Linked DNA regions of Homo sapiens. The protein of the gene in region 7 purifies or fractionates together with the protein of the main gene of each other region. This does not show direct contact. Each region holds a gene or a part of one and is shown on either strand. Other genes may lie near its edges. The genes, in order: SGK1, EIF5B, SOD2, ITIH3, TXNRD2, NFU1 and CS.

Region 1 (4,059 bases), on a different chromosome or scaffold from region 7:
GAGCCGATGGAGACTGATAACGGCCCTGCGCCAGGCCGTCCCCGGGCGGTCCTCGCGCCCCCGCCCGGGGCTCGCCCTCTCAATGGGGACAGAACCGCCCGCCGCAGGCAGCGTAGCCGCCAGCAAACCGCGAGGCGGCCGGGGCGGGGCGAGGGGCGAGGCGAAGGGCGGGGCCACTTCTCACTGTCGCGCAGGCCCCGCCCCCGCGGCGGTGCCTTTTTTATAAGGCCGAGCGCGCGGCCTGGCGCAGCATACGCCGAGCCGGTCTTTGAGCGCTAACGTCTTTCTGTCTCCCCGCGGTGGTGATGACGGTGAAAACTGAGGCTGCTAAGGGCACCCTCACTTACTCCAGGATGAGGGGCATGGTGGCAATTCTCATCGGTGAGTGCAGGAATCTTGCGGGACTTCTGCTCCAGGAGACGCAAAGTGGAAATTTTTTGAAAGTCCCGGATCAGATTAGTGTGTGTGGCGCCGGACGTTATGAAGCCGTCTAAACGTTTCTTTATTTCTCCTCCTTCATCCACAGCTTTCATGAAGCAGAGGAGGATGGGTCTGAACGACTTTATTCAGAAGATTGCCAATAACTCCTATGCATGCAAACAGTAAGTTTGACCGGATTTGAGGAAATAACTAGTATAGTTTGAATTTGCCAGCGGTAAACATTCTCATCACGGCGTTTATCGGGAAGGCGAAGACTTCTTCTGGGGTGGGGATCTCATTTCTCCTTAAATTCTAATATATTTGACACATTTTAAACATTAAAGTTAATTTGCTGATTTGGCTTGAACTGGAGATGTAAGATAAATGGTTCGTGTTGGCCGAATTCACGGCCTTTCTCCATGAGCAACAATCCTTATTTCTGTATTTAATGGGGTTTATTATTTTCTTTAACTGACTAATGTATTGGGGTATTTTCAGTTTAAACAGTGAATTATCCGGGTAGAAGTCGGTAGAGCCAGAAACTCACTTTTGATGTTGGTGTGCCCCCTAGTGGCGAGCTGGATTCTAAATCGTGCCCTTTATTCCCTGCAGCCCTGAAGTTCAGTCCATCTTGAAGATCTCCCAACCTCAGGAGCCTGAGCTTATGAATGCCAACCCTTCTCCTCCAGTAAGTTTTTGTATGTGCCGTGCATCTGTGGAGAACTGTAAGGGAGTCAGTTAGTATTCCTACATTAATGGATTAAAATAGCATTTCTAGAAATTAGTATCAAGGCAGGAATGCTTCATTATGGCATAACAAGTGATATAAATATTTAAGTATTGAGTCAGAGTATTATTTTATTTTTTTCCTGGGCATATTTTACCTCCAAAGTGGTTATTTTAAAAGGCATATTTCATAAAAAGGTTTTATCTGTCTGAAACAACATGACTGTGTGCAGTTTCCATACTCATTTGAAATGTGATGAAATGTAGTTTTGAATGTTTATAGATGTATGGTCATTTGCATCAGTCATTTGTAGATGTAACATTTTCTACATCGTTTATGTTATAGATGTCTTCCTTTGAAGCAATGGTATTAAAAGAAATTCTTTTTTTTTTTTTCTAGCCAAGTCCTTCTCAGCAAATCAACCTTGGCCCGTCGTCCAATCCTCATGCTAAACCATCTGACTTTCACTTCTTGAAAGTGATCGGAAAGGGCAGTTTTGGAAAGGTAATTTCAAATCTGAAGATCTTTTGGTACACTTCCTTCATGTCCTCTTTTGTATTCTCCCTGGATGAGGATAGAAAAATGATTTTTTTAAATTGAAATTTCAGGTTCTTCTAGCAAGACACAAGGCAGAAGAAGTGTTCTATGCAGTCAAAGTTTTACAGAAGAAAGCAATCCTGAAAAAGAAAGAGGTATGAGATGTGCTTGATGGGGCTGGCATTGGCGGTAGACACTCCTTGAATAATCTTGATTCTGGAATGTTGGTGCCAAGTTGAAACATGCCACTAAATCTGAATCGTCATTTTCCTAGGAGAAGCATATTATGTCGGAGCGGAATGTTCTGTTGAAGAATGTGAAGCACCCTTTCCTGGTGGGCCTTCACTTCTCTTTCCAGACTGCTGACAAATTGTACTTTGTCCTAGACTACATTAATGGTGGAGAGGTGAGCAGGGGGGATAGAAGTCAACTCTTAGTGTCTCTGCACAGCCTGCTTTGTTTTAGTTTGAGAAAAAAGTTTTCAAAGATTTTTGGTGGGGAGAATGTTACCAGAATTAGCATTTCCTTCAACCTGTCAGGTTTATAGTTAATAGATTACTTGGGGCCACTTCCTGCAGTTGTTCTTTTGCTGTGTATGTCAAAACTAATTAAATTCATTTGCAACCCAGAATGACTTTGTTCTGTCTCCTGCAGTTGTTCTACCATCTCCAGAGGGAACGCTGCTTCCTGGAACCACGGGCTCGTTTCTATGCTGCTGAAATAGCCAGTGCCTTGGGCTACCTGCATTCACTGAACATCGTTTATAGGTAAGCCTGAGAGCTCTTCAGGCTACCAGTTTTGGTATAAAGGAGACGTAGCACTGGCTGTTTCATAGGGCCTTAAAATAATTTGTGTTTATTTGCAACTTGGTTGCCTAAAACCAGATCCCCTAGCACGTGAGCTGGCTTGACTTAAGTGCCAAGGGGGAACCAGCCAAGTAGGATTGTGCCTAATCCAGAATAGATGAGCAGAACAAGGGCTCCCTTTTTTCTTCACTACACAACTACAGTGAACCTAAAATGCCTCTAATACCTTTAGCAATTATCTTTAAGAGGATATCTTATGAAGTGAAATTAACTTGTGCAACTACTTTTCTATTCACTTTTTTACAGAGACTTAAAACCAGAGAATATTTTGCTAGATTCACAGGGACACATTGTCCTTACTGACTTCGGACTCTGCAAGGAGAACATTGAACACAACAGCACAACATCCACCTTCTGTGGCACGCCGGAGGTAGGCGCTGTCTTGGTTTGGTGCCTGGTTTACCCCCGCCTTCCAAGAGAGAGATGTACAATCATGCACTTAACTACCAAAAAGAGTAAACTCCTCTCAGAGACTTCTTAATACAGTTCAGTGCAAATAAAATACATTTGCTGTTTGATGTAGCATGAGAAATCCCAAGTCCTTCTGTTCCTTTACTGAAAAGTAGCTGTTTGTAAGTAAGATCTGCATCATAAAAACTTTCTAAATCCCTAAGTAAGAGATATCAAGTGCCCAGCAGTTTCCTAAATGTCAGTACACATAGGTAGCCAGTCACCCTCAAAAAGTCCAGCAGTTTTATCAGGAAGGAATCTAAAGATATCTATCTTCCAAGCTGGCTCTGGGTCTCTCAGCTTTTTCAAACTAAATGTGTGGTCGTGGGATTGCTTGCTTTCGCAGGTTCTAAACGCTGTTTCCCTGGTCTGTTTTTCAGTATCTCGCACCTGAGGTGCTTCATAAGCAGCCTTATGACAGGACTGTGGACTGGTGGTGCCTGGGAGCTGTCTTGTATGAGATGCTGTATGGCCTGGTGAGTGGCACATTGGGAACCATGGAACACTGCCTGCTCCCTACAATATTGCCTTCACACAGCCCATGCTTGGCCATGGTGTCTTGCCCTTACCAGTACGCTTATCAAAAGCAGCTAAGAGGCATATTGGTTATTTTATAGTTCATAAGAATAATCACTTACCTGGTTCTTTTGTGCATTTCACATTTTACTAGATAGGACCACATTGAACCTGTGTGGTGGTGAAAAACTACCACTTATTAACATCTACCCCCTCACCCTCCACACACACACACACAAACACACACACGGGTTGCAAAGTAGACACTTAAATAGCAAGGGAAAAGAAAGCATTGAGGTGGGGAGAGTTTCTCAAATCGAGCCTAATATTTATTGCCGTTTATATCTTTTTCTCTACTGGTAATGTGTGCCATATGAAACTTCCAATTAAGTCTAAAGTAATTTTCCCCTTCTTTCAGCCGCCTTTTTATAGCCGAAACACAGCTGAAATGTACGACAACATTCTGAACAAGCCTCTCCAGCTGAAACCAAATATTACAAATTCCGCAAGACACCTCCTGGAGGGCCTCCTGCAGAAGGACAG
Region 2 (4,381 bases), on a different chromosome or scaffold from region 7:
AAGTTTGTACCTAATTTCATTTAAAATTTTACAAAAGCTATATTCTCCATTAAGAATAAAACTTTCTAAAATCTAAGTACTGGGTTTCTTCACATCTAATGTTCCTAGCTGAACATATGCGTAAGAAAAAGTTGCACAGACCAGCTTAAATTTCAGCTCTGTGGCCTTGGGTAAGCTGTTTACACTCTGAACCACCATTTCTTCATCTATATGATGGAAGTAAAAATAGCTATAAGATTTTTTTATGAGGGAAAAATAGACAATGTCAAAGACATTGTAGCATCAGTTACACACTAAGCACACAATAAATGGTAGCTATTACTGTAATTATAGCATAAACACCAAAATGACTGTAATATAAAAATCTAGGGAATATAGGAGCAGGAAATTTAAGAGAGGTCCCAATATATTCTTCTCATTGGAGCAAAGACACTATTTTAAATCACCTTACCTTTCAAAAAAGTAATAAATTATATGCCCAGTTGTGATCTCTAAACACTATTACCCTCTAAAAGGAACAAAAGCTCTTTGGATAAACAACCGATTCCAGGTCTCAGCCCATGCAAGATGAACCTGGGATATCTTGTTGCATCAGAAAGTAAGGAAAGGGTTAAAAAAAAATGGTCATGAATACTTTTTCACCGTGGTCATGTGGGCAAACTAATATGCTGTCTGGGAATCACTGTATTTCTTTTTTATTTTTTGGGATTCACTTTAAAACATGCTAGGATAAAAAGTAGATGGAGAGGTACAAAACAAGAATGTCAAATGGTCCTAATTGTTGAAGCTGGCTGATAGGTACACAGGGACTCATTCTATTATTATCACTATTCTTGTTTGTGGGAGGATAACTTATTTAGACATACTATCATTTACATATAAATTTTTATCCTCATGTAGATGTCATCTTCCTAAACAATGAAATGACATCACCTATTCCTTACGTTTTACTGAACTTTTTCACAGATTTTTCATAGGAACTGTCCTGATGCAAATTCCATTCTCCTTCTGAACATTAAGGGATATAACTGCATGTGCAGAGCTCTCTGACCATTCAGTTAATGAAGAGTACCACTCACCCTGAGCTTGTAGCAGTTTAAGAGTAGCTTCGGCTCTGGCTCTGGCTTCTCTCTGGGATTTAGTTAAAAGTTTCCCTTCTTTTTTCAAGCGTTCTTTTCTTTCTTTTTCTTTTTGCTTTTTCCTTTCTCTTTTTTCTTGTTCCAATCGTTCCTATAAAAGAGTACATGTCAGACAAAACCTGTATTCATTTAATGAACTATAAAATTCAAATGTAAACAATCCAAACTTCAAATAAATCTCTTGAGACACATGCAAAGTATTATGTTAGGAGATTCCAAATCAAAGTATTTTAAATGTTATACATGATTATTAATTAATATCACATCAGATTATTGGCAATGATACATAAGCAACTTATGTATCGAGCAATCTGTTCTTGAGAAAATAAAGATAAGATGTGCTGTACCTCTTCATCTTATTATTTGTATCGGAACAATAATATAACTGAATTACCATGCAACTATGAAATTTTCAGAATTAGAAGAGTAAAGATATTTTACAGAGAATAGATTTTAAGTTAAACACAATATCAATGTTACCAACTTCATGAAAACATACCTCTTCTTTACGCTTGGCTTCTAATTCTTCAAGCCGTTTTATACGTTCTTCCTCTTCTCTCTTCTGTCTTTCTTCTTCCTCTTTAAGCTTAGCCAGAGCTTCTTGCATAGCTTTAACAGTGGCTTTGCTAGGTCCTTTTTTCTTCTCTTTCTCTTTTTCTTCCTTTTCTCCTTTCTTTTTCTTCTTATCTTTCTTCTTTTTGTCTCCTTCATTGTCATCTACCAAAAAGAATAAAGGCAAAGCATTGAAATGAAAAAACAATTCCCTGTGGTGATGACGAGCAAAACCCAACCACAATTCAAGGACCATAATGGGCCAAGGCCGATGCCAGCAGCAGGCTAAGTTCTACAGGCATCAAGGCATCCTGAGCACTTTGGTAACTAGAATAGCTCAGAATAACTCACAGATGGCCTCCTGAGAAGTCTGCAATACTGATGTTGGTCTCAGATGTCCTGAGGAATACAGTAAGACAGAAGGATACTGTCAGCAGCAAAAGGGCAATCCTGTACCTAATGTATCTCTAAATCCATGGTACCTGAGTGGCTGGTGTCCAACAGATGCTTATATGAAGTTCTAACAATCAGAATGAACTAACACCCACGTAAGTTCTGTAGCTAATTTCACTTCTACAAGATGGAGTTAATGAGAATGATGTCCACTTTAGGGGGTATTAGTAGGATAAAATACAAAAATATAGGTAGTTATACTCCAAGAACTCTAAAGAATTAAAAGCTATGAAGGTACTTTCATGGTGTTCCTCCTCGAATATATCCAGATAATAAATATGCTAGCATTTAAAAAAGTTGCTGGGCACGGTGGCTCACACCTGTAATCCCAACACTTTGGGAGGCTGAGGTGCATGGATCACCTGAGGTCAGGAGTTCGAGACCAGCCTGGCGAACATGACGAAACCCCATCTCTACTAAAAATACAAAAATTAGCCGGGCATGGTGGCGGGCTCCTGTAATCCCAGCTACTTGGGAGGCTGAGACAGGAGAATCACTCGAACCTGTAAAGAGGAGGTTGCAGTGAGCTGAGATCGTGTCATTGCACTCCAGCCTAGGCAACAAGAGTGAAATTCCGTCTCAAAAAAAAAAGTTGTGTCAATTTTCCCATTAAAAGTTTTCCAGTCAAAAGAAAAACTACTGCTTTTGTTGGTTTTTTGAGACAGAGTCTCAGTCTGTTGCCCAGGCTGGAGTGCAGTGGTGCGATCTCCGCTCACTGCAAGCTCCGCCTCCTGGGTTCACGCCATTCTCCTGCCTCAGCCTCCCGAGTAGCTGGGACTACAGGCGCCCGCCACCATGCCCGGCTAATTATTGTATTTTTAGTAGAGATGGGGTTTCACCATGTTAGCCAGGATGGTCTATATCTCCTGACCTCGTGATCTGCCTCAGCCTCCCAAAGTGCTGGGATTATAGGCGTGAACCACCGCGCCCAGCCCAAAAACTACTGTTTTAAGAATATAGTATGGCCATGCAAACCATCTGATCTTTAGCTATTTTCATTCTAAATAAGAGGAAGAAATTAGCTAGAACTTTTATTTTATAATTGGTTGTTAAAAAAATGGCTCATTATTGCTTAAAAGACACTAATTTTAGCATGTTGAGTTTTAAGTGAAGCAGAAAATATTAGCAACTTCATGAAAACATTTCTTTGTGAATTTCATAAATTGAACTAGGTTTTTAAAGACAGGAAAGAATTCAAATATTATCTGACACTGAGTTATCAGAAAGGAAGAATAAATTTTTCATTAAGTAACTTCTATAGCCTTTATCAACAGCAAAAAAAATAGTTTTCATAATGCAATTCTATAAAAATTCCAGTCTGTACATAAATAATCTGAAAGATATTTATACTATATATGTAAAGAATTAACAATGCAAATCAAGTCAAATACTTAGACGTAATTTTTTAGATGGCTCCTTACAATCAAGTGTCTTTATACCCATGGACAAATAACAAAACGACCTTGGGGCACAATGATTACAACTTATACTGTGAATCAAAAGCCTTTTGCTCTTTCCTCTAAAGTATTAACCAACCTTCTGCAGCTGTGGGAGTCTCTGCTTTCTCTTCAGAGGCAGGAATTACTCCAGTATCAACAGTCACTTTGGATTTTACAGTTTCTTCTTCAAATTTCCTTTGAGATTCCTTTTGTTTACTCTGATCCTTTTTACCTGTTTCTAACTCTTCTTTTTCTTTCAGCTTCCGCAGTTTCGCTTTTTCTTCATCTCGCTTTTTTCTCTCGCGCTCCTTCTTTTCTGCCTTCTTTTGGGCCACTGTCTTAATTTTGAAGGAGGCGTCATCATCTTCATTCCCACTTTCTATGTTAGGACCTGGCTTGTTTTTCTGATTTTTTTTCTGTCCTTTTCTAGATTGCAAAAATTCATCTGATTCATCACCACTTTCACCAGAAGAATTTATTCTTGAACGCTCTTTAATTTTTTTACTGTTATCCTCATCCTCCTCTGACCCATCCCACTTCTTATTTGATTTTTGAGCTTTCCCTTTAGCTTTTTTAGGAAGTTTGTTAAAATCATCATCATCATCACTCCCAGAGTACATTTCCACTTTCGGTTTTGCAGTCTTTTTTGATTTTGAATCTTTATCTTCCAATTCTTCGCTATCATTATCATCAAAACTCTGTTTTTTGCCCTTCTGTCCTTTCTTTTTTTTATCTTTTGAGGTGAATTCCTCTTCATTGTTTTCTGTTGGCTAAAAAATTTCCATTGTTAGAAAAAAT
Region 3 (4,381 bases), on a different chromosome or scaffold from region 7:
AATTCAAGATGGATTAAAGACTTAAATGTTAGACCTAAAACCATAAAAACCCTAGAAGAAAACCTATGCAGTACCATTCAGGACACAGGCATGGGCAAGGACTTCATGTCTAAAACACCAAAAGCAATGGCAACAGAAGCCAAAATTGACAAATGGGATCTCATTAAACTCAAGAGCTTCTGCACAGCAAAAGAAACTACCATCAGAGTGAACAGGCAACCTACAAAATGGGAGAAAATTTTTGCAATCTACTCATCTGACAAAGGGCTAATATCCAGAATCTACAAGGAACTCAAACAAACTTACAAGAAAAAAACAAACCCCATCAAAAAGTAGGTGAAGGATATGAAGAGACACTTCTCAAAAGAAGACATCCATGCATCCAACAGACACATGAAAAAAATGCTCATCATCATGGGCCATCAGAGAAATGCAAATCAAAACCACAATGAGATACCATCTCACACCAGTTAGAATGTCAATCATTAAAAAGTCAGGAAACAACAGGTGCTGGAGAGGATGTGGAGAAATAGGAACACTTTTACACTGGTGGTGGGACTGTAAACTAGTTCAACCATTGTGGAAGACAGTGTGGCGATTCCTCAGGGATCTAGAACTAGAAATACCATTTGACCCAGCCATCCCATTACTGGGTATATACCCAAAGGATTATAAATCATGCTGCTATAAAGACACATGCACACGTATATTTATTGTGGCACTGTTCACAATAGCAAAGACTTGGAACCAACCCAAATGTCCATCAATGATAGATTGGTTTAAGAAGATGTGGCACATATACACCATGGAATACTATGCAGCCATAAAAAAGGAAGAGTTCATGTCCTTTATAGGGACATGGATGAAGCTGGAAACCATCCTTCTCAGCAAACTATTCCAAGGACAAAAAAACAAACACCGCATGTTCTCACTCATAGATGGGAATTGAACAATGAGAACACTTGGACACAGGAAGGGGAACATCACACACCGGGGCCTGTCGAGGGGTGGGGAGAAGGGGGAGGGATAGCATTAGGAGATATACCTAATGTAAATGACGAGTTAATAGGTGCAGCACACCAACATGGCACATGTATACATGTAACAAACCTGCATGTTGTACACATGTACCCTAGAACTTAAAGTATAATTTAAAAATAAATAAGTAAAAAATAAAATGCCAGAGTTGGCACCTTAAGATCCTCTTTCACAGCAAAGGAGCAGGACTAAAACCAGGCATCTTGACCAATATCCCACAGGTGCTCTGGTAAAATCTCCAAGACCAGGACCCAGGTCTTCCAGTACCTAATTCAATGTTCTTTCCATGCCCACACAAAGGCAAGCAGCAGAAGGAGGAGCAAGCATAAGGCCTTCCCAGTCACCACAGCCATGCTGTCAAACCTCTCTGTGGATATGCTGTGTTAACTTCTGAGCCTTGGGGATACCCATATTTACAATATGATAAATACATTAAGTCACATTGTTTAATATTTGGATATGGGCCCAGACGCACAAATGAACAAGAACCTCATGTCCTGGGACTTCATGGAGCACAAATTATAGTGGGCAGAGAGGCAAACTTGGAATCACCGTGACGCTGGGCATCGAGACTACTGGGTGCAACAATGGGACACACTGAAAGATGACTAGCATGTCATAGGAACTTGAAAGCATTCGTGCTCCTTCCTTTTCACAAACTGAGAAATCTTAAATTTTTTTTAACGTGTCCCAGAAGCATCTTGACAACAGAAGCACTCTCATTACTGTAAAGCCCACAATGAATAGCAGACAGCATGACTTCACCCTAGACAGGTCATGCCAACTTCACATCCCTTTCCAAATAGTATGCCAGTACTATACCAAATAGTATACCACTTTAGGAAGAGTGGTACCAGGTGGTAAGCTCCTATATTCCAATGACCAGAGTAAAATATCACCAGAACTTTATGTAAAATACATCTTGTAAAAGTATGATTACTTTATTTTTCAGAGTTAAGGCAATAATCTGTGGTTGGTTAATGTTCTAAGATGTTACAAGAACTTTAAGAGACAGGGTCTCACACTGTCACCCAGGCTGGAGTGCAGTAGCACAATCATAGCTCACTACAGCTGCAAACTCCTGGGCCTGTGATCCTCCTGCCTTAGCTTCTTAGTAGCTGGGATGATAGGTGTGAGTAACCACAACCAGCTATTATGAGAAATATATAAAATACTATTTGTGATCATGTTATTTATAAGAAATATATATATTGTCTCAATCCTTGCTTGGTCTCTTGGCTCCTAAACCCCTTGAAGTATCTTTGGTTTGCCAATGAAATGATTGGTGGCTGGGAGCCTCTAGGTAGCTTCAGGACGGGGGGCTGCTTACCAGAAAGACCAAGGCAAGATTGGAGGGTTTGGACTCCCAGCCTCAACCCCCAACCTCCAGAAAGGGGAGAGAGGCTGAAGGTTGAGTTAATCGCCAATTGCCAATGGTAATGCTGACATAATGAAGCCTCCGTAAAACCCCAAAGGGTCGGGGTCCAGATGAGCTTCTGGGTAGCTGATGACGTGGAGAGAGCATGAAAGCTCCATACCCCTTCCCACATGCCTTGCCCTGTGCATCTCTTCCATCTGGCTGTTCATCTGTATTCTTTGAAATATCCTTTACAAGCCAGAGGCAATGGCTCACACCTGTAATCTCAGCACTTTGGGAGGCTGAGGTGGGTGGATGACTTGAGGTCAGGAGTTTGAGACCAGCCTGGCCAACAGAGTGAAACCCCATCTCTACTAAAAATACAAAAATTAGCTGGGCATGGTGGTGCACACTTGTAATCCCAGCTACTTGGGAGGCTGAGGCATGAGAATCGCTTGAACTCAGGAGGTGGAGGTTGCAGTGAGTTGAGACTGTGCCACCGCACTCCAGCCTGGGTGACACAGTGAGACTCCATCTCTAAATAAAAAAATAAATAAATGAAATATCCTTTACAATAAATTAGTATTGTAACCAATATGTAGTTTTAATAAAGTAATAAAATTAAAAATGGGTAAACATAAGTAGAGTGTTTCTCTGTGTTCTGGGAGCTGCTCTAGCAAATAAATCAAAACCAAGGAAAGGGTCACGGGAACCCCACTTTATAGCCAGTCAGAAGTATAGGGACTTGCGATTGGTATCTGGAGTGGGGGCAGTCTTGTGGGCTGAGCCCTCCACCTGTGGGATCTGACTCCAATTCCAGGTAGACAGTGTCAGAATTGAATTATAGGACATCCAGCTGGTGTCCACTGGACAACCTGGTGTAAAAGTATTGAGTGGTATGTGACAACAGCAAAAACACTTTGGTTTTGTCGTATATCCCTAATACTATGCTTTTAGGTTATCAGATGATGTTATTACAGATATGACTGGAGATACAGGTCTTGGTCTTAAGAGTAATATTTCAACTACCCATTATTTACTATTCCTTTCCCATGGAAACTCAGTGAAAATGACAGAAGATTATAGGATTTTTAAAGTTTTTGACATGCAAGCATAATGCAGACCTCTTTGATGGTTGACAGATTCTTTTATTAACAGTCAAAAACTTCACACAATTGGAAAATAAATGTTTCTTCAATGAATAATCAAACAAAAATTATCCAGGACCTTATAGGGTTTTCAGTATGTACCAGGCTTGATGCACATCTTAGAAGACAGGACATTATCTTGCTGGGATCATTAGGGTATGACTGAAAGTGAGAAACAGTAATTTGTAAAACATTTACCTAATAATAGCTTTCCCAAACAGTACTTCCCCTGGAATTAAAACAGGAAATACAATTTATGTTTATACGTGGTTTTAGATATGACTCAATATACATAGATTTTAACTTTATGGTTTGGTATTACTTTTTTAAAGGCGCTCAATAGAAATTCAAATCTCACTTTAAGACCATGAATTTCAAGTTGCAATGAAGTGTACAATAAAGTTGTGATTTCTCAACATCAAAGTTTAATTATTACAAAATAGTTCAAGCAACAGATAGAATTTCAAAAACAGTATTTGCTTTGCTTCCTTGTTTTGCTCCAACACTAATCATGCTGAGGTTTTTGAAGCACAGCTATGACTAGGGCAGGCACTGCTGATTCAGTCACAAAAACCCTTCTTGGATGAACAATACTTGTTCTTTTCAGAAGAAAAGCAATTTTACCTTTTCTATTTCTATTATGAAAAACAGAGCTAAACAATTTTTGTATTTTTAGTAGAGACAGGGTTTCACCACGTTGGCCACGCTGGTCTTGAACTCCTTCAAGTGTTCTGCCTGCCTTGGCCTCCCAAAGTGCTGGGATTACAGATGTGAGTCACCCCGCCCAGCCCTAAACAATCTTAAAGTCTCCTTTTCCACCAGATGACTAAAATCTTTA
Region 4 (4,381 bases), on a different chromosome or scaffold from region 7:
AGGGAATGGGGTGGTCGCCCTGCAGAGGTGGAGATGCCATTACCTGCCTAGAGAAGGAACAAAATTGCTAGATTCAGCAAATGCAAAGACAGGACGTGCAGCTACATTGAAGGTCAAATAAACAATGAATAATTTTTTAGTGTAGGTATGTCTGTTATGGGTTGAATAGCGTACTCCTAAAGTTCAACCTTATTTGGTGATAGGGTCTACAAAATAAGGTCATGAGTATGGGCCCTAATCCAATATGATTGATGTCCTTATTAAAAGGGGAGTTGGACACAGACATCCAGAGGGAAGACATGTGCAGACACAGGGAGAAGACAGCCATTGATAAGCCATGGAGAAAAGGAAAGAGGCCTAGAAAGATCTGCCCTCATAGCCCTCAGAAGGAACCAACCCACCGCCACATGGATCTGGGATGTCCGGGCTCTGGAACTGGGAGACAATACGTTTCTCTCATTGAAGCCACTTGGTACTTTGGTATGGCAGCCGCCATACACTAATACAATGTCCTGTGCAATATTTGGGGCATACTTACACTACAAAAATTCATTATTTATCAGAAATTCATATTGAACCAGATGTCCTGTGTTTGCTCTGATAATCCTGTTGAAGAAACGGGCCTGTTGTGTAGCCCAAGGACAAAATCAGAATCTTTACTGATGGGTAAGAGATAGTCAGAGGTGGATTTTGACCCAAGACGAAGCTCTTCCTAATAACTAGAACTGTCACCTTATGGAGCAGCTGTCTGAGGAAGTAGTGAGCTCCTTATGCCCGGAAGTGTGCAAGACAAGGCATACCTGCAACTGCAAATCGGCATCAGAGTCCTCATAAATGCGCCGGGCAAACCCATGGTTCTCCAGGGCCATGTTCTCCAGGAAGTTATAATTCAGATTGTTGCCAAAGCCCAGGTTATACAAGGGGAACTTGCCCCCGATGGCATTCCGCACATTCTCTTGGATTTTTTCGGGTCTGCTCTCACCTGTTGGAGAAGGGGGTGTTCACAGTCCAGCCCCAGCCCTGGGGATGGTCTAGACCAGCTCTGTCTGGGGAGACCGGACTCCTGCACATGCAGAGTTGCTGGAGTCACGACCATGAGCCCTTGTGGGGCAGGTGGTGGAGAGCCCTGGCAGAGGGAGGCAGGACCCTGCCCTTGAGGGGCTCCCAGACCACAGGGAACCCAGGGAAGAGCTGCCCCAGGTTTTCCAATGAGCCAGCTACAGAGCCAGGAGCAGCAGCCAAGCACTCCAGCCCTAGCTCAAAACCATGCCCGTGCTCCTCACCAACATTGGCATCCCCATCAGTCAGCATGATGACAATGGAGGTGCTCCTCTCTGGGATTCTGTGCTCCTCTCGGGCCTTGTTCAGCATACTGATGCCCCTCAGCAGCCCGTCATTGATGTTGGTCACTGGGACACAGACAGACAGCACCGTGGGAGGGTGTCCTCAGGGTGCCAGTGTGCAGACAGGCTGGAGCGGAGGAGGCCGGGACAGCCGGCCCCACTCATGTGCCCAAGGACCCTATCTGCCAGCCCATGGTGGTACTCAGCAAACAATGAATGAACCACCACATGAACAAACAAACAAACAACTTCCACTTTCAAATGGGGATGAAAGGCACATGGTGAAGACGAAAAGCACATGGTGATTGTGAAAGCCCTTTGGCAGAGTTGGATGGACTCCCAGTACCTCTTGCTGGGAGGAGAGGGGAGCAGTGTAGACATCGTGCCATTTTCCATATGAAACAGGGCCAAGAAGAAGGGTTCTCTGTGGCCTTATCTTGCTGGGACTTGTGAGATACCAGGATCATGGATTAGAAACAGAAAGAATGGGTTTCCCTGGACCACGGAGAAGACAGCCGATATTCTGTCTTCAAGCCTGAGGACCATCCACTCCCACCTCTACCCCAGCTCAGATCTGAAGAGGGCCTGAGACCAGCAGAGTCCCTAAGAGGGGGGTTGCAGGCTGCTCAGGGACAGAGGGAGGCACCGCTAGGAGGTGTGTGGGCTCCAGCTCCGCTCTTACTTCCTTTATCCTCCATGCTCTTCACAAACGTCCTGGCCTCCTGGAGGTTCTCGGGCGTGGCCTGGACTAAGTGCTCTTTCCATGTGGACACATCTCCACTGAACAGGATGAAATTCAGATAGTCTTCCTCTTGCATATCTTCCAGGATTCTGAGAAGGGCCTCCTTTGTCTGGAGGAGAGACAAAGAGCTGGGAGAAGCCGCAGCAGAGAGTGAGGTCCCTTCTCAGCTCAGCAGGCGGTGCAGCCCACGCCATCTGCACCAGCGAGCCCTGCCTGAGGCTTGCCACAGAAGCGGGCAGAGGCCGTGAGCCTTCTCTTATCCTGTCCCCTTTCTCCTCATTCACCACAAAGATCAGCTTTTTCCAGTTAAAAAAAAAAATCTCTTCCACCCCCTACTACCCCGAGCCCTGGCTGTGCCACTGGTGCTGATTACCTGCTCTAATTTCCGACCAGCCATGGAGCCGCTGATGTCAATCACAAAGGCCACGTTCTTAGGCACCACTGGAAGGCCTTGAGGTGCAAAGAAGTGCACGAAGTAGCCATTGACTATCTGGAAAGTGGGGAGAGGGACGGAGGCCGGTGTCCTTTTAGCAACACCACATTGACTATTCTTGCAGGTAGAAGCCAGACATTTACCAGCCCAAGAAAAAGACGTTCCTATCCCACCCTCTAGGGGGTGCTGCACCAGGCTCTAGGCCATCAGCTGTCCCACATCCTGCAGGAAAACAGCCTTGGGCTGAGGACCCAGGGTGATGGCACTAGATCCAGCTGCAGCCCCCGCCCGACCAGCCCTCGCCCCACCCTGATGATGAATCAGCCAGCCCGGGTACCTGCACGTTGCCAGGAGATTCTCTGTTCACGTCATAGGTGATAGTGAAATCTCCATTGAGGAGGGAGTCTGTACAGGTTGGGCATGAACGCTGTTGGTCTAAGCTGGGCTTGAAGGACACATGGCCCTAAGGGATGGAGATGAAAGACCTTGCTCAGCTCGGCCAGGGCCTGCCCACTGGGAGACCTCAGCCCTTAGCTGAGGGAGCAGAGGTGCAGCCTCACAGGGAGGAGCCCTTGGCAGGGCAGAGGCTAGCAAGAGCTGGAGGCCTGGGCAGCCCTGCCCGCCGGTGGCGTGCTCTGCAGCTCCCAGGACTCACTGGAAGGCACTGTTTACCACGCTCCGGCCTTTCTGAGCACCGCTTTTCCCCTTGGAGATCAGGGCTCCTGGCTGGGCACAGGCCTTGGCTGATTCAGCTTCCAGCTCCCTTTTTCTTGGCCTCACACACCCATTAGCCCAGGCTACCTTGGAGCTCAGCACTGAGAAGCTACTTAGGGAAGGGGTAGCTTCCCATTAAAAGGAATTTCTTGTAGGTTTGGAATGTTGGTGTGTGGGTGCCAAGAGGAGGGGAGGGAGAAAGGAGGAGAAAGGGGAGGAGGAGGGTCCCGGGGCAGGATGTGGCCCTGCAGAAGCCAGCAGTCCTCTGAGTGTGTGCTCCTCGGGCCTCGCCCTGGAAGTCCTGGATGATTGGTTTGTTGTTTATACAAACATTTATTCACCCACTGTCCACTGCCATTAAGGCCCCTGGAACAGCTGGGAGCCTTGGGGACTGGAGTCAACCACCTAGCACCAAGAATGAAGTTCTCTTTAGTCTTTCACCTCTCATTGTGGAGTCAGTAGATCTAAATGACTCCCTTGGGCTTCAGCCTCGGGACCTGTAAAACAGGGAAGATAAGCCCTGCCCTGTCCATTTCCCAAGGGGGAACGGGACCAGGCTTTGTAAATGGCTCCTCTGGCAGGTCATTGTCAGCAGCCCCTGCCCTCAGCATCCTCACTCCCAACCCCAGTGGGCAAGGAGGAAGGTGATAGTTGCAGATTGATCCCCAGCCCCACCCCAACACATGCATGCTTGCAGCAGCTAAGCCCTAGGCTGCAGGCTTGTTCTGCTGGAGTCAGTATTCCTGTCCCCTGCCCCACCAGGTCTGAGAGGCATCTACATCACCTTTTTCCCTGAGAAGGACTTGGTGAGGGCGCTTCCCAGGAGGTCGTTGGTGATGAAAGAGGCCTCAGCATCCAGCATGCTGATTCCCTGAGGCTCGAAGATGTCTACCTCGATCTGAAATGGCCAAAGTAAGGAAATGTCACTCAGTGACCTCAGAGGCCAGTTCCCAGAACAAGGCCAATGGGAATGAGATGGGTCTGTGGTGATGCAGGGACCCTCTAGGACAGTGCTGAGGGCCAAGCCTGGTGTCTCCCACTGCGAAAGTGACCACAGGGGCTTGGAGGAGAGTATGCTGATCGGGAGGTGTTACCACCGCCTGCCATATGCGCCCGAAATTCCACCACTGATGCTTTTCCTTTGGCTTT
Region 5 (4,381 bases), on a different chromosome or scaffold from region 7:
CGTATCGGTAGGACCATGATGCCCACCTGAGCCGCAAAACCAGCAAGTTTTTATTAAGGATTTTAAAAGGGGAGGGGTTGTGCCAATAGGGAGTAGGTCACAAAGATCACATGCTTCAAAGGGCAAAAGGCAGAGCAAAGATCACATGCTTCTGAGGAAACAGGACAAGGGCAAAATCAGAACTCCTGATAAGGGTCTATGTTCAGCTGTGCACATATTGTCTTGATAAACATCTTAAACAACGGAAAACATGGTTTAAGAGCAGAGAACCAGTCTGACCACAAATTTACCAGGACGGAGTTTTTTCCCCACCCTAATAAGCCTGAGGGTACTGCAGGAGACCAGGGCGTATTTCAGTCCTTATCTCAACCGCATAAGACAGACACTCCCAGAGTGGCCGTTTACAGACCTCCCCCCAGGAATGCATTCCTTTTCCAGGGTCTTAATAGTAATATTCCTTGCTAGGAAAAGAATTTAGCGATATCTCTCCTACTTGCACGTCCATTTATAAGCTCTCTGCAAGAAGAAAAATATGGCTCTTTTTGCCTGACCCCACAGGCAGTCAGACCTTATGGTTGTCTTCGTTCCCTAAAAATCACTGTTATTCTGTTCTTTTTCAAGGTGCGCTGATTTCATATTGTTCAAACACACGTTTTACAATCAATTTCTACAGTTAACACAATTATCACAGTGGTCCTGAGGTGATGTATATTATCAGCTTATGAAGATAACAGGATTAAGAGATAAAGACAGGCATAAGAAATTATAAAAGTATTACTTGGGGGCCCAGGCGCGGTGGCTCATGCCTGTAATCCTAGCACTTTGAGAGGCCGAGGCAGCCATATCACAAGGTGAGGAGATCAAGACCATCCTGGCTAACATGGTGAAACCCTGTCTCTCCTGAAAGTACAAAAAATTAGCCAGGTGTGGTGGCGGGTGCCTGTAGTCCCAGCTACTCAGGAGGCTGAGACAGGAGAATGGTGTGAACCCAGGAGGCGGAGCTTGCAGTGAGCTGAGATTGTGCCACTGCACCCCAGCCTGGGCGACAGAGAGAGAATCTGCCTCAAAAAAAAAAAAAAGAAAAAAGTATAAAAGTATTACTTGGGAATTGATAAATGTTCATATTGAAATGAAATCTTCACTATTTATGTTCCTCTGCCACGGCTCCAGCCAGTCCCTCCATTCGGGGTTCCTGACTTCCTGCAACACAGGTGTGAGCCACTGTACCCAGACTAGGGGTGCAGTTTTTTTTTTTTTTTTTTTCTGAGACAGAGTCTCACTCTGTTAACCAGGCTGGAGTGCAGTGGTGCTATCATAGCTCACTGCAGCCTTGAACTCCTGGGTTCAACTCACCCTCCAGCCTCAGCCTCCCTAGTAGCTGGGACTGTGGGCCCTGCAGTTTCTCCTTTTAGAGTAGGAAGACCTGAACTGTCCCAGGCTTGGAGTGGGTGGGCGATGCAGCCCCTGAACAGGAGCCAGAATGACAACACCTGCTGCCAGGAAAGAGCTCTAGATAGAGCAGCCATACAGGAGGGCCCCTGAGGTGGCACCCTGAGGTGGCCAGCCTGCCTGTGGGTGCACATTTTGGGGGACCCTTCCACTTGCCCTCACTGGTGCAGTGCTGCATTCTCTTGGGCCTTGCTATGAGCTCTGGGCTCCTGCTCTTTGCTGGCCTGTACCAGGCAGTGGGTTCAAAGAGGAGCAGAAAATTAATGGACAATATGTCAGAAGGCAGAGGCAAGACAGACACTTGCTGGGGCCAAGCCCTGCAGGTGGAGAGGGTATGCCTGGCTAAAGTGGGTGAAAGGCAAGGTTATGAGGTTCTCCAGGACACTGGAGTGCACAGGTGGTGTGTCCCCAGGTAACGCCTGCCACCCAGCCCTTCCTCCCACAGAACAGCATCTGCCCTACCCACCTTTGAGGTACTTTGGGGTCCTTCCTTCCCAGCAGGCTACCCAAGCCCTTCCAAGTGCTTAAAGGCAGATTTCCTATGCTTGCAAACGACTGCCCTATGCCAGTGTTTATCAGCCCGAGAGGGCTCCTGGGTGTGCACAGGGGGCGAGCAAGCTGCCCAAGATAAGCACATCCATACAGACAGCTGCTCACCCTGCCTGATAGCAGACAGAGGGGGCACAGTGCGAGGCTGCAGGGCAGGATGACCTAACAAGGGCCCTGCTATGGCAACAAGAAGGACAGGCACCTGCCATGGAAGGTAGGGACGTTCTGAGCAAAGCTTCCGGCTACCAGGCAGCTGGAGGAGAGAGATGCTTCTCCATCAGCAGGTTCATGCTCCCCGGGGGACCTGGTGGCATTTTCTCCCTGACCAGCAGTCCTTGGTTCTCTAGACTTATATTAAAGCCATTAGAATAATTTACAACAATTTAGGCCTTTCCAGAGCCCTTGAGTTGAATTAGGAATTGAGTGTGCTTTGGACTGGCTGTTGGAACCGAGTTGTGGCTCTGTCAGTTCCCGCAGGTGCGCACACATCTCACGTGCACTCAGAGGCTGGCTGCCAGGTGAAAGAGTGGGTGGGTTTGGTTGTGGGGCAGGCTCGCTGCAGGCCATGGCCTGAGTGCCTGGATGCAGCTTCCCAAGCTTTCTCAGCTGTGAGCCAGGGCTCCTCTAGGCTCCAGCTCTTGTATCCTTTAGGAGTGCATGTTCTAGACCTGTCTGTGGGGCATCTGCAGGGCCAGGGTGTGGAGAGACATGACACTCCAAGTACACTCTCTGCAGCCTTGCCTGCCTAGGAAGGTGGAGGTGGCTGCAAAGATAAGTGCAGCCTTCTCATGGCAGACGCTAGGCTCTGATGGAGGTGTTGGGCAGGTTGCCCAGCCTTGTATGACAGACCCTGCTCTGATCATGGAACCTCTTGGCCTTGTCTGAAGCAGCGACCGGCTCCAGATGCTCTGGGAGGGTGGTGCTTCTCATCTGGGCAGGCTCGTGTCTGCAGAGGGGCTGAGGGCACTACTTGTTTTATACCCTAGAGTCTTGTCATCAGTCCCCACCCTGCCCTCACCCCAGCAGACTGATGACTTGCTATTATTTCTTCCTTCCTTCAGCAGGGAGTTGGCTGGTGCCTGGTGCTGGGTGTCCCGGACCTCAGGCCCAGTTCAGTGTACTTCCCCTCTCTACTTCCTCCCTCCAGTCCCTTCTCCATCCCTCCCTTTTTTGGCTGCCCCTTGCCTGCCTTCCTCGCCAGTAGCTTGCAGAGTAGACACGATGACACCTTTTGCAGGCTAAAAAGGCTGAGAGTGGCACTATGTGCAGTGAGCCACCATGGAGGACCAAGGTGAGGCGACACCACAACCAGCCCAAAAGGAATTCCAGGGATGAAACCTGAGCCCAGGCAGCTCTCCCTGTGCCCAGGGTGGCTTCCCTCCTAGCTGACTGCAGCTGGGCACACCAAGACCCTGGCTGTGTGCACTGGCCAGCTGTGAGGGACAGGGGCTGCTTGTGCTTTTATTCTTTTTTTTTTTTTTTTTTTTGAGACGGAGTCTCACTCTGTCTCCCAGGCTGGAGTGCAGTGGCGTGGTATCCGCTCACTGCAAGCTCCGCCTCCCGGGTTCACGCCATTCTCCTGCCTCAGCCTCCCGAGTAGCTGGGACTACAGGCGCCCACCACCATGCCCGGCTAATTTTTTTGTATTTTTAGTAGAGACGGGGTTTCACTGTGTTAGCCAGGATGGTCTCGATCTCCTAACCTTGTGATCCACCCGCCTTGGCCTCCAAAAGTGCTGGGATTACAGGCGTGAGCTACCGCCCCTAGCCTGTGCTTTTATTCTTGCTCACTTGTGACGGAGGGCAGCCTTCACAACTGAAAGGCACGTGGACTTGAGAATGTTTTAGTCCACCTTGGTGGCTCATGCTTGTAATTCTAGCACCTTGGGAGGCCAAGGTGGAAGGATTGCTTGAGGCCAGGTGTTTGAGACCAGCCTGGGCAACATAGCCAGACCCCATCTCTACAAAACAAAAAAATTTAGCTGGACGTGGTGATCGGTGCTTGTAGTCCCAGCTATTCTGGAGGCTGAGGCTAGAGGATCACTTGAGCCCAAGAGGTAGAGGCTGCAGTGAGCTGTGATTGTGCCACTGTGCCCCTGTCGTGGGGGCCCTTCCGGGTCTATGTCCCAGCCCTGTGCTGACCGTGTTCCTTCTCACCTTTCATCCCTCCCCCAAGCAGGGCAGTGGACTACAATCTTCTGGGTGACAGAGTGAGATCCTGTCTCAAAAATAAATAGAATAAAAAAGAAAATATCTTAGTTCTGTGTCTGGCTGAGAACACTGGGTGAGGTTTGAGTTCAGAGTGGTTGGTATGGTGTGCGTGTGATTTGCAAAGATGATCACACACGCCCACGGCCAACCTCACCACCATATGGCTTGGTCTC
Region 6 (4,381 bases), on a different chromosome or scaffold from region 7:
TGTTGCCCAGGCTGGTCTCAGACTCCTGAGCTCAAGTGTTCTGTCCTTCTCGGCTTCCAAAGTACTGGGATTACAGGCTGTTTTTCGTACTTTTTTGATATAAGTCACAGTAAAAAGTGTTTTACATTATGTGTGTGTATGCGTGAGATACAAATGTTTGATGGGATAGTTTTCACTATTTTTTCACCCTTACAATAGATAATAGATTCTTAAATTTCCTTTCTTCATCTCTTTTTGTTGTTCTGTTTTATTTTATTACATAAAACCCTGTCACTACATACATGATTCCACAACTCACTACTGGGTTTTAAAAACCCTACCCTAGAAGTTACTTGCACATGTGCCCAAGATACGTGCAGGGATGTATTTACTGTCATAGACATCTGAGACATACAAGTGAAGAAAGCAACTTGCAGAACAGTGAGTCCAATATGATACTATGTATATAAAAGCAAAAACCACAGAACAACAAATGCACTGACAAAAAGATCTGGAAGAATACACACGAAACTGATAACAGGATTTGGTAGGGGTAGTCAAGGGGCATTTAAATTTTATTGTTTGAAACATTTACATCAAGAATGAGTTCATATTTTGTATTAAAAAAGTAAAAGTAAAAAAGCCCCAATTAATTCAGTTATAGATTAGTTAGAGATTATTTCTGTCAGATGTTCAGTTGGCAAAATCTCTTTTCAAGTTAGTCTTTTGAAAATAGTCTGTTTAGGCTGGGTGTGGTGGCTCATGCCTGTAATCCCAGCACTTTGGGAGGTGGGTGGATCACCTGAGGTCAGGAGTTGAGACCAGCCTGGGCAACATGGTGAAACCCCATCTCTACTAAAATACAAAAATTAGCTGGGCGTGGTGGTGGGCGCCTGTAATCCCAGCTACTTGGGAGGCTGAGGCAGGAAAATTGCTTGAACCCAGGAGGCGGAGGTTGCAATGAGCCAAGATCTCACCACTGCACTCCAGCCTGGGGGACAGAGGGTGACTCCGTCTCAAAAGAGAAAAAAAAAAAAATAGTCTGTTTAGTGCTCAGTACAGTGCCTGGCACTTAGTAGGTGTCAAATATTGGTTGAATGAATGATTGATAGTATAGATATAGCAGTCTATTCATTCACCAGGTGATGGACATTTCCATATTTTTCTGTATGTGTGGCTATTTTAAATGAAGCTGCTATGAAGATTTATGTACAAGTCTTTGTGGAGCACGAGTTTTTATTTCTTTTGGGTAAATAACTAGGAGTGGGATTGCTAAATCGTAGAGTAGGAATATAAAACAAAATTGGCCATGAGTTGATCATTGTTAAAGCTGCAAAGGATATGTGGAGAATTTTTTACTTTTCTCTACTTTTGTGTATGTTTAAACTTTTCCATAATCAAGCATTTTAATATCTCTTATTTTTTCTTTTTTTGCAGGCAGTTATTTAGGATTGAAGGAGTAAAAAGTGTCTTCTTTGGACCAGATTTCATCACTGTCACAAAGGTAAACATAGGATTATATAAAATAAGACTTGAAATACTCTTCATTTTTTTCTGAGTCCAATGCCTCTCTCTCCAACATTTCCATTCTTTCTGTTCTTTAATTTTTATATTTTATTTTTGAGACAGGGTCTTACTCTCTTGTCCTCTAAATGTCACAAGAATCAAGCGAAATATGCTATGTTTTTCTTTTTCTTTTCTTTTTCTTTTTTTTGAGATGAAGTCTTGCTCTTGTCCCCCAGGCTGGAGTGTGATGGTGCGATCTTGGCTCACTGCCACCTCTGCCTCCCAGGTCCAAGTGATTCTCCTGCCTCGGCGCCCCCCCCCGCCACCCTGAGTAGCTGGGATTGCAGGCGCCTGCCACCATGCCCAGCTAATTTTTATATTTTTAGTAGAGACAGGGTTTCGCCATGTTGGCCAGGCTGGTCTAGAACTCCCGACCTCAGGTGATCCACCCGCCTCGGCCTCCAAATTGCTGGGATTACAGGCGTGAGCCACCACGCCTATAAAAAATATGCTATGTTTTTCAACAGTCAAGGCAGTATCTGCTAGAAAGGGCTGTTCCATTTTTGATGTCTACTAGATTAATGGGACATGAACTATTTAAATTTGAACTATGTATCCTTTTAAATCTGTTAATTGACATATATCCACGGAACTTAAATCACTTGCCTGATAGTGTGTGAAAATCAAAAATATTTATTAAACTCCCCTTAAGCAAATTGAAAGGATTAGTCTGAGCTCTTTATGTCCTTAAAAGTGGACATACTGGGGGCCGGGTGTGGTGGCTCACGCCTGTAATCCCAGCACTTTGGGAGGCCGAGGTGGGCAGATCATGAGGTCAGGAGATCAAAACCATTCTGGCTAACATGGTGAAACCCCGTCTCTACTAAAAATACAAAAAAAAAGTAGCCGGGCATGGTGGCGGGCGCCTGTAGCCCCAGCTACTCAGGAGGCTGAAGCAGGAGAATGGCGTGAACCCGGGAGGCGGAGCTTGCAGTGAGCGGAGATCGGGCCACTGCACTCCAGCCTGGGCGACAGAGCGAGACTGCATCTCAAAAAAGAAAAAAAGGGGACATACTGGGTTAGTGACATGTTAAATCTAGTCATCTAGTCCAGTATTCTCTTGCGGCTATTTATTTAGAGACAAAGTCTCACTCCACACCCAGGTCAGAGTGCAGTGGCATGATCTCAGCTCACTGCAGCCTAAGCCTCTTGAGCTTAAGCAGTCATCTCACCTCAGCCTCCCTAGTAGCTGGGACTATACGTGCATACCACCATGTCCAACTAATTTTTGTATTTTTTGTAGAGATAGGGTTTCGCCATGTTTTCCAGGCTGGTCTCAAATTTCTGAGCTCAAACAATCTGCTCACCTCGGCCTCCCAAAGTGCTGGGATTACCGGTGTGAACCACCACGTCCAGCCCCCCATTCTTCAGTTTTCTTTCTTCCATATTTTTTAAGGAGAAGAAGGGATGAACATTTATTTAATATATTCAATGTCGGATATGGCCCTAGTGCTTTACATATGTTATCTAATTCTTACAACTAGTTATTTTATAAGTGGGAAATTATATATTTATTTTTTAAAGTTATTTAGTTCTTTTACGTATAGCCTATGCTATATAAAAATTTTTATAGGTAAAAATGTGATTATATCTTAAAGGGTTTTGGTTTTTTTTTTTTTCCTATTTTTCTTGATTAGATTTAGTAAGTCATCTTTTAGCTCTCTTACTTTCATTATTTAGTTACCCTATTTGAAATTGCCCTAGCTCTACAATTTTTTCTTAAGTGAAATGACATAACCAATAGATAATATCCCAAGTTAGGGTATATGTTGATACACATATATGTATGTGTGTGTGTATATCTATCTATCTACACATACATATAGATGGGATCTTGCTCTGTTTCCCCAGGCTGGAATACAGTAGTGCGATCATGGGTCACTGCAACCACTAACTCCCAGGCTCAAGCGATCCTGCTGTCTCAGCTTCCCGAGTAGCTGGGACTACAGGTGCATGCCACTATGCCCAGCTAATTTTTTTTTTATTTTTTTTTATTGTAGAGACAGTGTCCTTCTATGTTGCCCAGGCTGGTCTCAAACTCCTGGGCTCATGCAATCCTTCTGTCTCGGCCTCCCAAAATGTTGGGATTACAGGTGTGAGCCACCACGCCTGGCCCACGTTGGTATTTAATAGACGGAATACTGGATTTATTTTGTTTTCTTCCAGTAATGTTTCTCATCATGGACTATCACATTTTACTGAATGTCTTCAGCAATCGCCTGTTTCTATTTCTGATTTCCAGTTGATAATTAGACTTCTTTATGCATCATTTGTGTTATTTTTTTCTAAATATATATGTATATTTGCAGCTTATATGCTGCCCTTTTTTTCTCATTCAGACAACTTTAGAATATTTTTTCTTTTTATTACCAATATTTTCCTATTTAGTAGAGCCTGCTATTTACTGAAGATCTGAGGTAACACTCTGATTTGTTTTCCAAATAATTTATTACCTACAACTAGTTTCCATTCCCAATCACTAAGATATTTCACTAGTTTTACTTTTATAACCTTAGCAGTCCCCATTTATCTCACCTTTTATGTACTATCTCTATATTGTTTCCTTTTTTTGTTTTTTGAGATGGAGTCTCACTCCGTCGCCCAGGCTGGAGGGCAGTGGCACGATCTCGGCTCACTGCAACCTCCGCCTCCCGGGTTCAAGCGATTCTCCTTCCTTGGCCTCCCTAGTAGCTGGGATTACAGGCCTCTGCAACCACGCCGGCTAATTTTTGTATTATTAGTAGAGAAAGGTTTTCACCATGTTGGCCAGGCTGGTCTCAAACTCCTGACCTCAGGTGATCCACCCGCCTCGGCCTCCCCAAAGTGCTGGGATTAC
Region 7 (4,381 bases):
GGGGGTCTTGCTATGTTGCCCCGGCTGGCTTTGAACTCCTGGGCTCAAGCGATCTTCCTACCTCAGTCTCCCACAGTGCTGAGATTACCGGCATGAGCCACTGCAACCAGCTGACTTTCTGTTTTGTTTTGTTTTGAGACCGAGTCTTGCTCTGTTGCCCAGGCTGAGTGCAGTGGCTTGATCTTGGCTCACTGCAACCTCCGCCTCCCAGGTTCAAGCGATTCTCCTGCCTCAGCCTCGCGAGTAGCCAGGACTACACGCACCCGCCACCATGCCCAGCTAATTTTTGTAGTTTTTTAGTAGAGACAGGGTTTCACCACGTTGGCCAGGCTGGTCTCAAACTCCTGACCTCAAATGATCCACTTGCCTCAGCCTCCCAAAGTGCTGGGATTACAGGTATGAGCCACAGTGCCCGGAAGATTTTATGTTTTTTTGTTTGTTTGTTTGTTTTTGAGAAGGAGTCTCACACTGTCACCCAGGCTGGAGTGCAATGGCACAATCTTAGCTCATTGCAACCTCCCTCTCCCAGGTTCACACTATTCTCCTGCCTCAGCCTCCTGAGTAGCTAAGATTACAGGTGCACACCAACACACCCGGCTAATTTTTTGTATTTTTAGTAGAGATGGGGTTTCACTATGTTGGCCAGACTGGTCTCGAACTTCTGACCTCGTGATCCACCACCTCGGCCTCCCAAAGTGCTGGGATTACAGGCGTGAGCCACCGCGCTCAGCCTGATAGCCACTTTCTAGCACCGTTCGGTGTCAGGTTCAGTCATGTTTTTTGCTAAACCTGAAGCTTAAAAAAAAAAAGTTATCAGAGGAATTTTAAAGGCAGCAATTCATTGGTAAGATTGCTCAAAAGGGTAGAGTAGAAAAAATTCAACTTAGGACAACTTTATCTAATGATGTAGAGTACAGAGCACTTAATTTGGAGTTAGGAAAGGAAGTCTGGGTTCTAGTCCTAGCTCCATTACTAATTAAGACAACCAAAGGAAAACAATGAACTACTATTTCTCTTCCCATTTCCATAATTAAGATAACACTTAAACTACTTAACTCAGAGTCTGATTCTCAGGTTCCAATAAGGACGTATATGCAAAAGTAGTCAAGTCTTGTTACTTAAAATGTGACCTCCTCGCCAGAAGTATTTACATTTCTTGGGCCTCAGACTTACTGAATCCAAACAGTTTAGATATGGAGTTACCAAGGACCAAGTCCTAAATGAACGTTCTGCCACCTTCCCACTGTGTTATCTTGGCTATGTAACCTAATTTCTAAGTCTCAGTTTTTACATTTCTAAAATGGTAATAATAAAAGCCAATTTCAGAGTAGTTAAGTAAACTAAATAAAATAATTTTCATAAAAGCATCTAGAACAGTGCTTTGTGCATAGCTGAATTCAGTAAATATTTGTTTCTTACAAATGTGTTGGCCTATCACCTACCATCAAGTGTCAGAACTTCCTGGGAGTTGGATCCCAGGAAAGAGGCAGTCAAGCCTGAGGCAGAGGTGAATGGATAATTCCTTCCAGCTGTGGAATACAAAATAAAGTCCCAATTTTCTTTCTTTCTTTCTTTCTTTTTTTTTTTTAACAGGCATCAAGGAAAAGATACCAGTTTTCTTTTTAAGGGCTTCTTGACCAAGAAGGGAGGCATCTCAGGGAGAGGAAACAAATTTAACTAACCCTGATGGCCACCAGCAGAGCAAATGACTCTAGACAGGAGGTGCTTGAGGACTGTAACATCAAAGGCTACATTTCATTTCCTCTACCCCGTGGCTGCCAAAGAAAGCTGCTGAATGGCTCTGAACAGTACATTCAGGTTATGTTCATTGATGAGACAGGTAGATTACAAACCTCTGAATCATCCCTGAACTTCTACCTCCCAGATTCTCCCCTAATCCTGGAGGTGTGACAGTTGGGCTTTTGGCTTCTGGATGCATGCCACCTGTAGAGTCACCTTACTGGAACAGCAGCTCTCAGGAGAATCAGGCAGTCATCTCACTCAATAGGTCAGCTCCTTCATGGGGAGAGATGGAGAGGGCTACTTCCAAAGACAAGGGCCTGGCTCACAATGTCTGACAGCCAGTATTCTCTATAGGGTGGAGGTGGCGTTATCACAATCACGAAGAGGTTTTTCCCCCACAATCACTAAGAGCTCATTTGTTGCCACCCCTTACAAGAACTCCTCTAGTGAGTCAGCTATTATTGATAGAGGTGGGCTGTAGCCCTCAAATGTGGTAAGATGAAAAAATATAAAAATTAAAAGAGGCCAGGTATGGTGACTCACACCTTCCTTTGTTCTCCTCTGCCTTTGCCTCTTTAAAAAAGTTCTAAGTTGCAGCTGGGCACTGTGGCTCAAGCCTGTAATCCCAGCACTTTGGGAGGCCAAGGCAGGCAGATCACGGGGTCAGGAGATCAAGACCATCCTGGCTAACATGGTGAAACCCCGTCTCTATTAAAAAATACAAAAAATTAGCCAGGTGTGGTGGCAGGTGCCTGTAGTCCCAGCTACTCGGGAGGCTGAGGCAGGAGAAGCTCCGGGAGGCAAAGCCTGCAGCGAGCCGAGATTGTGCCACTGCACTCCAGCCTGGCTGACAGAGCAAGACTTGGTCTAAAAAAAAAAAAAAAAAAGTTCTAAGTTGCTAGCCAATCAGGACAAATACAAAATGTGAGGTCCCATTCCAGCCAATGGAAACTGGAACTGGACACAGCAGTAGGGTGGATGCATCAGGGTATAAATGACCCTGTCTCCTTTGCTCGGTGTACTCTCGTGGCAAAACTGCTGGCGTGTACCCTTTCTGCAGAAAGTATAAAAATGGCCTTGATGGCCTGGCGCGGTGGCTCACGCCTGTAATCCCAGCACTTTGGGAGGCCAAGGCAGGCGGATCATGATGTCAGGAGATCGAGACCATCCTGGCTAACAGGGTGAAACCCCATCTCTACTAAAAAAATACAAAAAAAAAAAAAAAAAAAAAAAATTAGCCGGGCGTCATGGCGGGCGCCTGTAGTCCCAGCTACTCAGGAGGCTGAGGCAGGAGAATGGCGTGAACCTGGGAGGCAGAGCTTGCAGTGAGCCGAGTTCGCACCACTGCACTCCAGCCTGGGCGACAGAGTGAGACTCTGTCTCAAAAAAAAAGGCCTTGCTGAGTAAATTAAATTAAATTAATTAAATTTATGTTCAAGTGCTATTTCTTTACAGCACCAGGGAACAAGCATTTCAAACAGGAGGCTGAGGCAGAAGAATCGCTTGAACCCAGGTGGCTGAAGCTGCAGTGAGCTGAGATTGTGCTACTGCACTCCAGCCTGGGCAACAGAGGAGACTCTGTCTCAAAAAACAAAACAAAACAAAAAAAGCCCACTTACTCAATATAGGTTATTTTCCTCTTACTCCTTAGCCTATTACCATCACTGTTCCACATCTAGCACCCTCACCCTACAGTCAAGAAGCCAAATTTTCTTTGATTCTCCATCCTAGGTACATCCAGACTCTCTCTGTCCTTCTGCATATCCAGGATATGTCCTACCACATATCCACATAACCAACATTAAAACCTTGGGGGAGGCTGGGCGCAGTGGCTCATGCCTATAATCCCAGCATTTCTGAATTAAAAAGCAAGACTCTGTCTCTACAAAAAATAATTTAAAAAATTAGAAAACAGGCTGGACACGGTGGCTCACGCCTGTAATCCCAACACCTTGGGAGGCCAAGGTGGGTGGATCACCTGATGTCAGGAGTTCAAGACCAGCCTGGCCAACATGGTGACACCCCATCTCTACTAAAAATACAAAAATTAGCCAGGCGTGGTGGCACATGCCTATAGTCCCAGCTACTCGGGAGGCTGAGGCAGAATCGCCTGGACCTGGGAGACGGAGGTTGCAGTGAGCTGAGATTGCGCCATTGCACTCCAGCCTGGGTGACAGAGCAAGACTCCGTCTCAAAATAATAATACTAAAAAAAATTAGAAAACAAAACAGAAAAACCTTGCGGAAGAAGCTCCTGATTTTAACAGGGACTTCGTCCTTCATCAACAAAAGATCAGAGCTTGCCAAGCCAGCAGGACTGGCTTAGCTGATGGAGCAAACACAATACACTAATAACCAGTAGGAAAAAATCCTGTACTACAGACACTTCCAATGCAGAAGGAACAACTTGCATTCAGAGAACACGAACACAAATAGGACAAAGGCTCCTCTCTCCCCAGAACCAGGTCAGAGAACTAAAGCCATTTAATGTGTGTGTTTCACAACGGTGATACTGGAAGTCGGTTTGGCACTACATGGTCAGGCCACTTAAAAGCCTGAGCAATCTACAGATTTCATACTTTGACCTCCTTCATACTTACAGACATTTCCTTAATAATTCTACCTAACTGTCATTTTCC

The links.
Region 1: the proteins of CS (region 7) and SGK1 purify together in Homo sapiens (co-immunoprecipitation; one large-scale study listed by IntAct). This does not show direct contact.
Region 2: the proteins of CS (region 7) and EIF5B purify together in Homo sapiens (affinity purification with mass spectrometry, with the first as the bait; one large-scale study listed by BioGRID). This does not show direct contact.
Region 3: the proteins of CS (region 7) and SOD2 fractionate together in Homo sapiens (co-fractionation; one large-scale study listed by BioGRID). This does not show direct contact.
Region 4: the proteins of CS (region 7) and ITIH3 fractionate together in Homo sapiens (co-fractionation; one large-scale study listed by BioGRID). This does not show direct contact.
Region 5: the proteins of CS (region 7) and TXNRD2 fractionate together in Homo sapiens (co-fractionation; one large-scale study listed by BioGRID). This does not show direct contact.
Region 6: the proteins of CS (region 7) and NFU1 fractionate together in Homo sapiens (co-fractionation; one large-scale study listed by BioGRID). This does not show direct contact.

What each region holds. Positions count from the first base shown.
Region 1 is NC_000006.12:134,171,054-134,175,112, reverse strand, and holds part of SGK1 (serine/threonine-protein kinase Sgk1), read left to right. Parts: intron 1-246; exon of another isoform or gene 247-305; coding exon of another isoform or gene 306-381; intron 382-526; coding exon 527-602; intron 603-1,032; coding exon 1,033-1,108; intron 1,109-1,546; coding exon 1,547-1,651; intron 1,652-1,755; coding exon 1,756-1,839; intron 1,840-1,958; coding exon 1,959-2,090; intron 2,091-2,338; coding exon 2,339-2,451; intron 2,452-2,796; coding exon 2,797-2,920; intron 2,921-3,380; coding exon 3,381-3,476; intron 3,477-3,934; coding exon 3,935-4,059. UniProt on the Homo sapiens protein: Serine/threonine-protein kinase which is involved in the regulation of a wide variety of ion channels, membrane transporters, cellular enzymes, transcription factors, neuronal excitability, cell growth, proliferation, survival, migration and apoptosis.
Region 2 is NC_000002.12:99,361,120-99,365,500, reverse strand, and holds part of EIF5B (eukaryotic translation initiation factor 5B), read right to left. Parts: intron 4,354-4,381; coding exon 3,681-4,353; intron 1,857-3,680; coding exon 1,639-1,856; intron 1,231-1,638; coding exon 1,080-1,230; intron 1-1,079. UniProt on the Homo sapiens protein: Plays a role in translation initiation.
Region 3 is NC_000006.12:159,675,594-159,679,974, forward strand, and holds part of SOD2 (superoxide dismutase [Mn], mitochondrial isoform A precursor), read right to left. Parts: 3' UTR 1-4,381. UniProt on the Homo sapiens protein: Destroys superoxide anion radicals which are normally produced within the cells and which are toxic to biological systems.
Region 4 is NC_000003.12:52,797,566-52,801,946, reverse strand, and holds part of ITIH3 (inter-alpha-trypsin inhibitor heavy chain H3 isoform 4 preproprotein), read right to left. Parts: intron 4,131-4,381; coding exon 4,017-4,130; intron 2,982-4,016; coding exon 2,856-2,981; intron 2,576-2,855; coding exon 2,459-2,575; intron 2,195-2,458; coding exon 2,026-2,194; intron 1,410-2,025; coding exon 1,284-1,409; intron 983-1,283; coding exon 801-982; intron 1-800. UniProt on the Homo sapiens protein: May act as a carrier of hyaluronan in serum or as a binding protein between hyaluronan and other matrix protein, including those on cell surfaces in tissues to regulate the localization, synthesis and degradation of hyaluronan which are essential to cells undergoing biological processes.
Region 5 is NC_000022.11:19,931,265-19,935,645, reverse strand, and holds part of TXNRD2 (thioredoxin reductase 2, mitochondrial isoform 5 precursor), read left to right. Parts: intron 1-1,915; exon of another isoform or gene 1,916-1,979; intron 1,980-2,119; exon of another isoform or gene 2,120-2,205; coding exon of another isoform or gene 2,206-2,212; intron 2,213-3,092; exon of another isoform or gene 3,093-3,276; coding exon of another isoform or gene 3,277-3,289; intron 3,290-4,381. UniProt on the Homo sapiens protein: Involved in the control of reactive oxygen species levels and the regulation of mitochondrial redox homeostasis. Maintains thioredoxin in a reduced state. May play a role in redox-regulated cell signaling.
Region 6 is NC_000002.12:69,416,640-69,421,020, reverse strand, and holds part of NFU1 (NFU1 iron-sulfur cluster scaffold homolog, mitochondrial), read left to right. Parts: intron 1-1,416; coding exon 1,417-1,483; intron 1,484-4,381. UniProt on the Homo sapiens protein: Iron-sulfur cluster scaffold protein which can assemble [4Fe-4S] clusters and deliver them to target proteins.
Region 7 is NC_000012.12:56,289,778-56,294,158, forward strand, and holds part of CS (citrate synthase, mitochondrial precursor), read right to left. Parts: intron 1-4,381. UniProt on the Homo sapiens protein: Key enzyme of the Krebs tricarboxylic acid cycle which catalyzes the synthesis of citrate from acetyl coenzyme A and oxaloacetate.